3 linked regions of the Homo sapiens genome follow. The protein of the gene in region 2 binds, or shares a complex with, the protein of the main gene of each other region. Each region holds a gene or a part of one and is shown on either strand. Other genes may lie near its edges.

The links.
Region 1: the proteins of CDC42 (region 2) and WAS are in contact, whole or in part, in an NMR structure (PDB 1CEE), measured with the Homo sapiens proteins. Residues at the interface, in NP_001034891.1 of Homo sapiens: Gln2, Tyr23, Thr24, Thr25, Val36, Phe37, Asp38, Asn39, Tyr40, Ala41, Val42, Thr43, Val44, Met45, Ile46, Gly47, Tyr64, Arg66, Leu67, Leu70, Lys153, Lys166, Asp170, Glu171, Ile173, Leu174, Leu177, Glu178, Pro179; in NP_000368.1 of Homo sapiens: Lys230, Lys231, Lys232, Ile233, Ser234, Lys235, Asp237, Ile238, Gly239, Ala240, Pro241, Ser242, Gly243, Phe244, Lys245, His246, Val247, Ser248, His249, Val250, Trp252, Phe258, Leu263, Asp264, Leu267, Leu270, Phe271, Ala274, Gly275, Ile276.
Region 3: the proteins of CDC42 (region 2) and FMNL2 are in contact, whole or in part, in a crystal structure (PDB 4YC7), measured with the Homo sapiens proteins. Residues at the interface, in NP_001034891.1 of Homo sapiens: Val36, Phe37, Asn39, Gln61, Glu62, Asp63, Tyr64, Asp65, Arg66, Leu67, Arg68, Pro69, Leu70, Pro73, Ser88, Glu91, Asn92, Lys94, Glu95, Lys96, Pro99, Glu100, Thr102, His103, His104, Pro106, Lys131, Asn132, Lys133; in NP_443137.2 of Homo sapiens: Ala41, Met42, Asn43, Leu44, Pro45, Lys48, Leu52, Tyr55, Lys59, Glu62, Leu63, Asp66, Gln67, Arg69, Phe70, Lys73, Tyr79, Arg108, Glu109, Ile112, Ser113, Leu114, Arg115, Thr116, Asn117, Ile119, Val122, Asp219, His222, Met226.

Annotation. Positions count from the first base shown.
Region 1 is NC_000023.11:48,681,693-48,685,440, reverse strand, and holds the start of WAS (actin nucleation-promoting factor WAS), read right to left. Parts: upstream 1,643-3,748; 5' UTR 1,588-1,642; coding exon 1,456-1,587; intron 1,159-1,455; coding exon 1,018-1,158; intron 1-1,017. UniProt on the Homo sapiens protein: Effector protein for Rho-type GTPases that regulates actin filament reorganization via its interaction with the Arp2/3 complex. Important for efficient actin polymerization. Possible regulator of lymphocyte and platelet function.
Region 2 is NC_000001.11:22,076,561-22,080,308, reverse strand, and holds part of CDC42 (cell division control protein 42 homolog isoform 1 precursor), read right to left. Parts: intron 1,881-3,748; 5' UTR 1,831-1,880; coding exon 1,726-1,830; intron 1-1,725. UniProt on the Homo sapiens protein: Plasma membrane-associated small GTPase which cycles between an active GTP-bound and an inactive GDP-bound state. In active state binds to a variety of effector proteins to regulate cellular responses. Involved in epithelial cell polarization processes.
Region 3 is NC_000002.12:152,338,156-152,341,903, reverse strand, and holds part of FMNL2 (formin-like protein 2), read right to left. Parts: intron 1-3,748. UniProt on the Homo sapiens protein: Plays a role in the regulation of cell morphology and cytoskeletal organization. Required in the cortical actin filament dynamics.

The sequences.
Region 1 (3,748 bases), on a different chromosome or scaffold from region 2:
AGTCTGGTTTGGAGATTTTCAGCTCAGCACCAGAGAGTTGGTGTCTAAGGGTGTGGATTGTGGGGTATAGTCTGGGAGCCATACACTTTTGTGAGAGGTTTGGATTTGGGGTTTGGGGCCCTAGATCTGGGACTTGGGGGCTTGAATTTCATAATTTAGGACTCTAGTCTTAGGAAGTTGAGGCTCATTCACAGATTCAATCCATGCCCTCCCCCACCACCCCAGCCCCAATTCATGACAGGTAGGATTCTAGTATTTGGGGGTTGGAGTTGAGATTTGAAGTTCAGACACATAGACTTGGGAGTTTCGCGGGGAGTCCAGCTAAAGTAAGTGCAATTTGGGGTTTGTGGAGAGAGTTATGGTTTAGGAGTTTGGTGGATATTTGATAGCCTTGGGATCTGGAAGTTATGCTGGGTCCATCTTTATGGGTTTAAAAGGATGAATTTGGGGCTTAAACCTAGAAAGTTCAGGTCAGGGGATTGTGGAAAAGACTTTTTGCTTAAGAACTACCTCGGTATTTGAGTGTTCAGGAATTTTAATATGGGAACTCTGGGGTCTGTGCTGTGGATTTAGAAGGACAGATTTGGAGTTCAAGGATCAATGGAATATTCAACTTTGGGGTTTGTTGAACAGATTTATGACTTAGGAGCTTGGCAAACATCTGGGGTTCAGGAGTTTTGATGAGAGATTCCTGGGATGCAAAATGTTGAGTTTAGAATAGATTTGAGGTTCAGGTACAAATACAGTGCTCATTTATTGGAATTTGTGGAAAAGATTAGGCTTAGGCAGCAGACTAATACTGGGGGCTTTAGAGATCTTGATACGGAGACTGGGGCCAGTCATTGCAGACTTAGAAAGGCAAGTCAGAGTTTGCCATCTGGATGAGTCTTTGGTTCTGGGGCTCAGGGATTCACTGATCAGGTCTGAGGTCTTGAAGCTATGGACACATATGGACACAGATCTGGGTTTGCGGGTTGAGAACTGGCTTGCAAGTCCAGTCGGGGGTGGGGGGGTCACCTGAAGGCCGTAAAGGCGGATGAAGTAGGACTTCTGGGGGTTATCCTTCACGAAGCACACAGCCCCACAATGCTCCTTGGTCCAGTGCTCAGCTCCAGGGGGCAGCGCCAGGTACAGCTGAACAACTGCAGTGGCCAGCGTCTGGGAGAGGAAAGCAGGGGTCAGTGGAGTCTGGTCAGGGGTAGCCACAAGGTCTTGGAGCCAGACCTGGTCCTTCCTGCCTCATGACAGTCATGGGCCCAAAGGAAGAGCTGCAGCCAGAGGGAAGGCAAGTAGACATTGAGATCTTCCTGGGAAGGGTGGATTATGACGGGAAATTCTAGGAGAGGAGATGATGGAGAGGGAAAGGAGGAGCGGGAGGAGGGGAAGAGAGAGAAGGAGGAGAGGAAGAGGAAGAAACGGTGGGGACGGGGCGGGGGCAGGAGATCCCCAGCTCACCAAGCATTTTCGTCCAAGCATCTCAAAGAGTCGCTGGTTCTCGTGGTCCTGGAGGAGGGTGGAGGGTATGTTCTGCTGAACCGCTGGTGCTCCTCGGCCCCCGGGCCTTCCTCCCATTGGGCCCCCACTCATGGTGCTTTCTGCCCTTGTCTTCTCTGGCGAGGCTCTGGGTGCAGGGTAAGAAGAGGAACTTCCGCAATGAGCAGCAAGGGAACAGGAAATGCAAAAAACCACAAGGGACAAGGGAAACAAGTCCTCCAGGGGCCCCTTGGTGGGCCTGGCCTCCTCGTTAGGCTGAGCTTGGGCCCTCCGCCATCAGATTGGAACCCTCCTCCACTTGACTGCTTAGACCCACCTTTTGGATCAGCTTGGGTCCTCCTCCCCCTTTCTTACTCTCTGGGGCCCATCTCCTTCTGACTGGCTCAGACCCTCCTCCCTCTGGCTGGCAGCGAGAGCTTAGCACATCTGTGTGCAGGGCTCCCTGTGGCAAGGAGTAGTCATGGGCCTGGGTGGCCTCCTTTCTAAAGCACCTAGGTAGCCTGAGGCTGAGGCCCGAGGTCCCTAGTCCGGAAGGGTTACTACAGTAAAACTTTTCCTTTTGGCTGGGGACAATAGCTCACACCTGTAATCCCAGCACTTTGGGAGGCCGAGACGAGTGGATCACTTGAGGTCAGGAGTTCAAGACGAGCCTGGGCAACATGGCAAAACCCCATTTCCACTAAAAAATACAAAAATTAGCCAGGCATGGTGGCACACACCTGTAGTCCTAGCTGCTCAGGAGGCTGAGGCAGGAGAATCGCTTGAACCCAGGAGGCGGAGGTTGCAGTGAGCTGAGACTGCACCACTGCACTCCAGCCTGGATGATGACAGAGCAAGACCCTTGTCTCAAAAACAGCAACAACAACAACACAACAAAAACCCTTTTCCTTTTAATTACAGAGCGAGCCCCTGTGATCCACGCCTATCGTGAGTGCTTAGACACTGCCAATGACGCATATGCCTCTGGTCCACTTCCCCATCCCTTACCCTTGCCTCCCCGCAGCTCCCAAATTACTTTCTGCTTGTCATACTTTTTTTTTTCTTTTTTTTTTTGAGATGGAGTCTCACTCTGTCGCCAGGCTGGAGTGCGGTGGCACGATCTCGGCTCACTGCAACCTTTGCCTCCCGGGTTCAAGTGACTCTCCTGCCTCAGCCTCCCAAGTAGCTGGGACTACAGGCACACGCCACCACGCCCAGCTAATTTTTTTGTATTTTTAGTAGAGACAGGGTTTCACCATGTTGGCCAGGATGGTCTCGATTTCTCGACCTCGTGATCCACCTGCCTCGGCCTCCCAAAGTATTAGAATTACAGGCGTGAGCCACCGTGCCCAGCCCATCCCTTTTTTAAAGAAAGGAACTTTATATCATATATGAATGCCTGAACAACATCTTGTTTAGTTTTCATTGCACTTGAAGTTTGTAAAAGCACATAATCTTCAAAGGCTTGCTTTCTCCCCACTGGACATCCTAGTTTTATCTTAACACTCACATAGCACTTAACGTGTGTGCCAGTCACTGTTCTGACCCCTTTGCCCGGAGTGCGAGCCAGGCAGGCCAGGTGTGAGTGCATGGTCTCGTCCCTCCACGCCTTCACTCTTGGCTGTTGCTGTGATTCCTGTTTGCCTATAGTGGTAGCTGTTCATTTATTTCCACTGCCATACAGCATTCCATGGTGTGCATGTGCAGCCTGGGTGTCCATATTCTCCTGTAACAGCCCTTTGGGCTGCTTCTGGTTCTTGCTGTTGGGAGCAACACTGCAGTGTTCACTCCCGCACACATCTCCTGGTCCACATAGGCATGCAGACTCTCAGACGGGAATCTGAGGGCTGTAGGGTTTGCATGTCTCTAACTTCTCCAGATGATGCCAGACTATTTCCACAAGTGAATGCTAGCTCAGTCCCCGGCCTCCCCAGGCCTCAGTTTCCCCATGTATGAGGTAGGCCATTTGGAGACTTGAAGCTCTCAGATACAGGAACAGCAGTTTGGGGGAGCTGAGCAGGTCTGGGGTGTGACTGACATTCCCAGGTACCTGAAGGAGGAACGGCACATCTCCAGTTGGGACCTGCAGTCCTTCCTGGAAACTTCCATGGCTTCCCACACGTGCAGGTTCAAAGCCTCTCTCCTGAACCTAGGTTCAGAACCCCTTCTGCAGTGGCAGTTCCAACCTCCCTCCCGTGTCCCCACTCACAGCTAAGCTTCGGGCCTGGAGCACCTCCAACCTGCTGATCAGGGCAAGCCCCGATGTGGCCTTCAA
Region 2 (3,748 bases):
TCAAAAACAACCCTCCTTTACTAGATTGTTCATATCCAAAACTAGACTAAGAATCAGAAAAGCTGGCTTCCATTCCAAAGTCTACTTATGCTAGTGTAATTACGCTAAGTAATTAAACTTAGACTTCTAAGTCTCATCCCTAAATTGGGCCTGAGTACCCTCATCCATTAAGAGATGGGTAAGACAATATATATTGTCCCATCCAGCTCTGAATTTCTATTACTCTAGAAATGGCAAGCCCCAACTCATAGATGGGAACTTAAATGCATTCTACACCAAATCCATTTCCATATTAACTTCAACAGGTACCATGAGAACATTACTTGTGCCTCATGGTCCATTCATTTACCTAAATCGGTTCATTTAAAATTTTATTCTACTACTACTCTTCCTTCCACTCTATCACTTTTCCAGAGATGTACAACACAAACATACATATAAAACACCCACAAGCCCACTTAAAATATAACACCAGAAGATCAAAGTCATAAAAGACTCAGAAATTATGTTTACAAGTAAATAACTTCAATGGAGACTGAAACAGAAAAATTCTGATAGCTGTCCTCACTCTGAAACAAGATTCATGTACCTCTAAATGTCCCCTGTAAGTCCACTGAACCTCAAAACGTCTTCCATTTATCTTGTCTCCAAATGAGCCAATTCAAAATATCAATATGATTTTAGTGTTTAATAATACCTTCAAATTCTCCCCCCTTCAAAAAAAAAACTTTCCTTATTTTTGAGACAGGGTCTCACTACCTTTCACAAATGAGTGTTACTCTAACTCTTGTCTCTCTCTCACTTCAATATTTTTGTTATTCCCATCTTCCTTCTACCATTCCAAAGAGTTGATTTAAAAAACAGTTATGGGGCCAGGCATGGTGGCTCACGCCTGTAATCCCAGCACTTTGGGAGGCTGAGGCAGGTGGATCATTTGAGGTCAGGAGTTCAAGACCAGCCTGGCCAACATGGTAAAACCCCGTTTCTACTAAAAATACAAAAATTAGAAAGGCGTGGTGGCGGGCGCCTGTAATCCCAGCTACTCAGGAGGCTGAGGCAGGAGAACTGCTTGAACCCGGGAGGCGGAGGGTGCAGCAAGCCGAGATCGCGCTACTGCACTCCAGATAGAATGGACGATAGAGACTCCATCTCAAAAAAAAAAAAAAAAAGAAAAAAAGAAAAGAACAGTTGTGGGAGTGACCCCCAAAGGACTCTGTTGGTGTTCTCGAAACATAACAGGTCTTCTCTTCTCTGCCCCTAAGAACCAGTTTGGAGCTCCATTACTGCTAAGCGAACAGCTCCACAAGAAAAGTGGAGACACATACTACTTTCTCTCAAGTTACAGGACCTCAAATGGTATCCCAGGAGACCTCCAAGTACTGATCAATAATTGGCCAAAATATCAAAAAAAAAAAAAAAAAAGTCACCTCATTCCAAGATGTAGGGCATACTTCACCAAATTGAGACCACCACTCGTTAGAATCTTGTCTACTGGAGTTTTGCCTCCCAGCACTTCTTGCAAACCCTGTGTCACCCCTTCTGACTTTCCACTGATTTTTCAGCTGTTTAAAGTGTATATAATTTACCCATGAGAAGTCAAGATCTTTAAAAACAGGAAACAAAGGCAGACAACAGAAAAAAATTCAGTACACATAGAGAAAGCGTTTTCAAAAGGATATCAAATTTTACAACATTTTACTAACAGAAGGAAGCCTTTATACTTACAGTCGGTACATATTCCGATGGAAATTTGTTTGTTGTGTAGGATATCAGGAGACATGTTTTACCAACAGCACCATCGCCCACAACAACACACTTAATTGTCTGCATTGCTGAAATAGTTTTGTATCCACTTTAAATATTTCAAATCTGATGATGACCTGCAAAAAGATTAAAGACATTTGTTTATTTATACTTACATATGGATTTTTCTTCCTCACTTAGCAACAGGTTCAGGCACTCAGAGCAAGAAAAGAACTAGCACAATTATTATGGCTAAAAGAACCCAATAAGAGACACAATGACTTGCTATAAGTTACAATAACAAATAAGGTCCATTTCTAAGTTTCTGATCCCTGGCTATTCCAACTTCTTAAGTGTTATTTTTAAAAGGTCCAAAGTGGTGTGATAATCAGCGAATTTATTTTTATCATGAAAGAGAAGAGGCTGTATCAGAGAAAATTCCACAGTGTGCTAAATATTATTTTGTGAAAGCTGTTCTTCAGTTACACGTGCACACACACCTGTATGTATGCATGTATGTCAACTAGACTGCAATACAAAGGCCACTGCTTTAAAGAATGGTTCATGATCCAGCCTTATTCAGCCTTACTCAGGCTCTGACCAACAAGCAGCAGAGCACCACACGATCACACGGTAATTATATGAGTAACGTGAGGAACTGAACAAAGAACAGGGTGATCGCTGGCCTCAGCAGCTGTTTTAGCACCAGAATGCCTAGTCCAAAACCTACATTTTTATAATGAAAAAGTCAGATTGCTCTAAAGCATACTGACTTATAAACAGATACTATAGCTTCTCTTACTAGAGTCCTCCTCCATTTTAAGAAGCTATCAATTACAAGTACCAAAGAGTCATTAATTTGAGATGCTTTTTTTCATGTTAACATCTCTAAAGTCAGAATGTATCTTTGAGTCTCTTAGAATCATTATCAGCCATTTTTCCCCCACATTTTGACTTCTATGAAATTGGAATCTTAGATTCAATGAAATACTTTAACAGTTTTCTGAAAGAATAAAAAGAAACACCACCCAATATGTACCTAAATTTTAAGATTTATATTTAAATTAATTTAAATTATAATCCTAAAGGGGTTATAATTAAACATAAAAATACAGAACCACCTAACTCTTGGTCAGATGCCACCATGCTCCTATAGCACCATTCACAACAATTAATCATAACAATTTATAAATGCCTATTAACATCCCTGTAAATGAACCTATACTACCTCATGCACCACTATACTTCTAGCACTGAGCACTTCTAGACTGACACACTGTGAGTTGTTGATTGGATGCAAAAATCACGAAACAAAAGAACATGAAACTACATTAGTGTGAGTAACTCACATGAAATATACACTCTCCCGCTCCTCATCAAAATTATCTGCAGTATATTTTTCTTTTTTTTAGACAGGGTTTTACTCCCGTCACCCAGGCTGGAGTGCAGTGGCACAACCTCAGCTCACTGCAACCTCCACCTCCCAGACTCAAGCAATCCTCCCACCTTGGCCTCCCAAGTAGCTGGAACCACAGACGCATGCCACCATGCCCGGCTGGGTTTTTGTTTGGTTTTTGTTTTTTTAAGAGACGGGTCTCACTGTTACCCAGGCTGGTCTTGAATTCCTGGACTCAAGCAATCCACTCACCTCGGCCTCCCAAAGTCCCAGAGTGCTGGGATTACATGCATGAGCCACCGCAGCCAGCCATATTTATCCTTCTTTATTCAACTTCCTTTTATATCTCCTTTTTCCTTCTCCTTTCCCTTTTATGCACTAAGAAGCACCCATACTAACTAATACAGCATTAAAGATTAACAACCCTGATCCCTAAGATCAATCAATTACTGGTTAAATCTAAAAGCACTCAAATAATAATAGTAAGCAGCAAACACTCATACAGCATTTACTAAGTGCTATGTACTGTTCAAAACATATTACACATATTCACACATTTCATCCTCCCAAAAAGCCTATGAAGTATGTGCTGTATTATCCCTATTTTAC
Region 3 (3,748 bases), on a different chromosome or scaffold from region 2:
ACACAGATTATCTGAATAACTTTAACGGAGAACTCACCATCCATTTTCAACAACTCTACATGTTAGAATATTTTTCCCTATGCTCATATGACTTTCAGTCACTGACCCTGGGGAATTCTACTCTTTAGACCACACAGAACACCCCTACACACATTTCCACCTGAAAGCTCTTCAAAAGCCAATGTCAACTAATGAATCACAATGTATTATGTTCTGGAAATTTTGTTTTCAAGTGGTATGATTTCCATCATCTCACGACTATGTTAACAATTGTGCCAAATTTTATTCCCATTCACAAAGGAGGAAAACCAAGGGCCAGAGGAAAGAGTTTCACTTGTCCAAGTTGGTGCAGCAAATATGATTCTAGAAACTAGGTCTCCTGCCTCCCAGGCCAATGCTAAATGACAGGCCACAAGCCAAAGTACTTCTTATCACTTACGGATTTAAGGCCACGCATACCATCTCTCCCCAAATTTCATCACTTTACACTGTTGCCAGTCTCTTCCTGGAGCCAAACATTTGCATTTGATCAACTTCTATCCTAGATACCCCAATATATTGTCACAGTTTTTACTGGTATTATTAGGAGGAAAAAATGCATCCTGATAATGATAACAGCCCTAACCATATATTCCCACTTTGGAGAATAAAACAGCTCAGGGAGTTACTGCCTAGGGTGAAACTGTAATGGTTCAAAGTGCCAACACTCCACCACCCCTCTTCCACACTCTCTTCCCCTCACAACAGGAGAAAGAATGTGAGAATACAAATCAGCAGCATCTGATGGCCTCACTACACTCCCACCCGCCCATCTGCTTAACAGACTTTATGGCAAGTGCTTTCCTTGGAAGTGGCTGAAAGGGAGCAACACCTTGCAGTGGGAAGTAAACTTAAATGTTAAAACTTGACCTTCCGGCCGGGCACAGTGGTTCACACCTGTAATCCCAGCACTCTGGGAGGCTGAGGCAGGTGGATCACGAGGTCAGGAGTTCAAGACCAGCCTGGCCAAGATGCTGAAACCCCATCTCTACTAAAAATACAAAAATCAGCCGGGCATGGTGGCACACACCTGTAATCCCAGCTACTCAGGAGGCTGAGGCAGGAGAATCACTTGAACCCGGGTAGCAGAGGTTGCAGTGAGCCAATATTGCACCACTGCACTCCAGCCTGGGCGACAGAGCAAGACTCCATCTCAAAAAGAAAAACAAACAAAAAAAACAACAACTTGACCTTCCTTTCCTTTTCACAGGTTTCGCATTTGGAGTATATGCGTTGCACTGACAGGTTGCCTATTCCTTCTGATTTGGAGAACAAACTTTTCAGCCAAGGTATTTCAAATCTGCCTTGAAAAGAAAAACTGAAGAGCACCTTTTTGGACCAGATCAATTTTTAACTCCATGCTTGAAAATAGAAGAGCACAGTGAAGATGCCAAAAGGCTTGACATCTAAAGAGAAGAAACTTCAAATGCACCTCACTTCAGTCACTTCTGAAGAATTTCTGCCAACTTTATCCAGTCTGAAATTTGCACTAACCAGACAGGAATTTTTTACTGCTAGTCGCAGGCCCTTTTTTTCTTCCCAGTTCTAAGCCTATGGAAGCATAATATAAAAGAAAGGCCAGGGGGAGTAGGGAACAGATCCAAATCTCTGCTGAAAGACTAGATTGGTTATTTAATAACTGTATAATTTTAGGCAACTTAGATATCTTTTTCTTTTTTGAGACCTGGTCTTACTTTGTCACCCAGGCTGGAATGCAATGGTATGAACACAGCTCACTTCAGCCTCGACCTCCAGGACTCAAATGATCCTCCCACCTCAGCCTCTTGTGTAGGTGGGACTACAGGTGCAAGCCACCACACCTGGCTAATCTTTTTTTTTCTTTTTTCATAGAGACAGGATCTCACTATGTTGCCCAGGCTGGTCTCGAATTCCTGGGCTCAAGTGATCCTCTCACCTCAGCCTCCCAAAGTGCTGGGATTATAGGGGTGAGCCACTGTGCCCAGCCTAAATAATCATTACTTATGCATCTATAGTATTGCTGATAGCATTAGTTACTGTGAGCATTAAATGAGAACATGTAAAAGGCCTACTCATAGTAGATACTCAGAAAATGTTCCCACTCCTTCCTAAAACAAAATGACCACATTCAATCTCAGGACATGCAGAAAAAAAATGAGAAGGAAATGGACTCAAATTAATCAGATACCAAAGCAGTTCCTGATACCAAATATAATACTGCCCTAAACCATTACTTCCTAATAATTTTAAATCTGTTTGCAGTGCTGCCTGACACCTGATATTGCACAAGATACAGCAGCTAAGACACAGACTTAAAATTGTCCTTTCCTCTGAAACTCAACAAAAGAATTTTAAGGATAGCTCTTCAACAAAGGCATCCAAGGGTGTGCCTTTTAAGTTGTAAACAGTGACTGCAAGCCAAAAATGAGTGAATAATATTATGCAGTGTCTAATGTAGAAACAGGTATTCTCGGACAAAAACCATCAGTTGTTCACCACATCCACCCAGAACCACCTTCTTATCATCATCTTTAAAAATAAAAGACATGGGAGTATTTGTGGATGTGTGTATGTAACCCAGGATGTCCAATCTTTTGGCTTCCCTGGGCCACACTTGGAAGAAGAAGAATTGTCTTGGGCCACACATAAAATACACAAAAACTAACGATAGCCGATGAGCTTAAAAAAAAATCATGAAATAAATCTCATAATGTTTTAAGAAAGTTTATGAATTTGCGTTGGGCCCATGAGGCCCACAGGCAGTGGTTGACAAGCTTGATGTAACCCCCAAAATTAGACAATGGTTAATAAATACAATGGAGGGCCACATGGCTATTACAGATATGAAGAACCCCCAAAAAACACAGGCTAATATTACCTATGAAATATATACATCCTTACATCCTAAAAGAACAAAGATTGAAGTACGTGGCTGACTTTATAATTTATGAAACACTTCCATATAAATTATACATAGGTTAGAGTATAACAGAAACATTGCACATACACACACACAAAGGCATATGCATATATGTGTGTGTGTGTGTGTGTGTGTGTGTGTGTGTATCTCACCTTCCAGCTGTACCTGAAAGGTCAATACAGGGAAGCAAATGGTTTAAATGTATACACTAAGACAGTAATTTTTTCCCTTAAATGTAAGTTTTATAACTATTACTATAATGATACTGAAGATACCTATCCTTGGGAGGATTAAACTCCTAACACTGGGATCCAATTTTTGCTAGTCACTAACTCCATTTTTTTCTATTAAAAAGATTACTTTTCAAAGTTCACCCCTCTAGTCTTAATTCATTAGTCTTTTATTCTCTCATTTCCATTCATACCCACTAATTTTTTATATTCGCACAATTTAACCCATATAAACTGATGGGGAGGGAGGGTATAGTCATTGAATAGATTTGTTCTCTCTTAAGGCTTTCCTAACAAGAAATAAAATGGACTTTTGTCATTTTAATTTTTGTTTACTTCTCTCTGAGGCCTTAAATATTCTAGAGCTGGAAGTTGGGAGGAACTGTTCTCCTAGCTTGAAACAGTCTGTTAATTATTGATGTTAGCCATACTTACAATGAGGTGCTTAGACACTTTTCTATACGGTATTACTATCTGGTTTTCCTCCCAAAACACCCGTATGATCTTTATTATACAAGAAAGTTGAACTGGTATCAATAATGCCAACACAATTTCCATTGCCCTCCACATACATACTTAA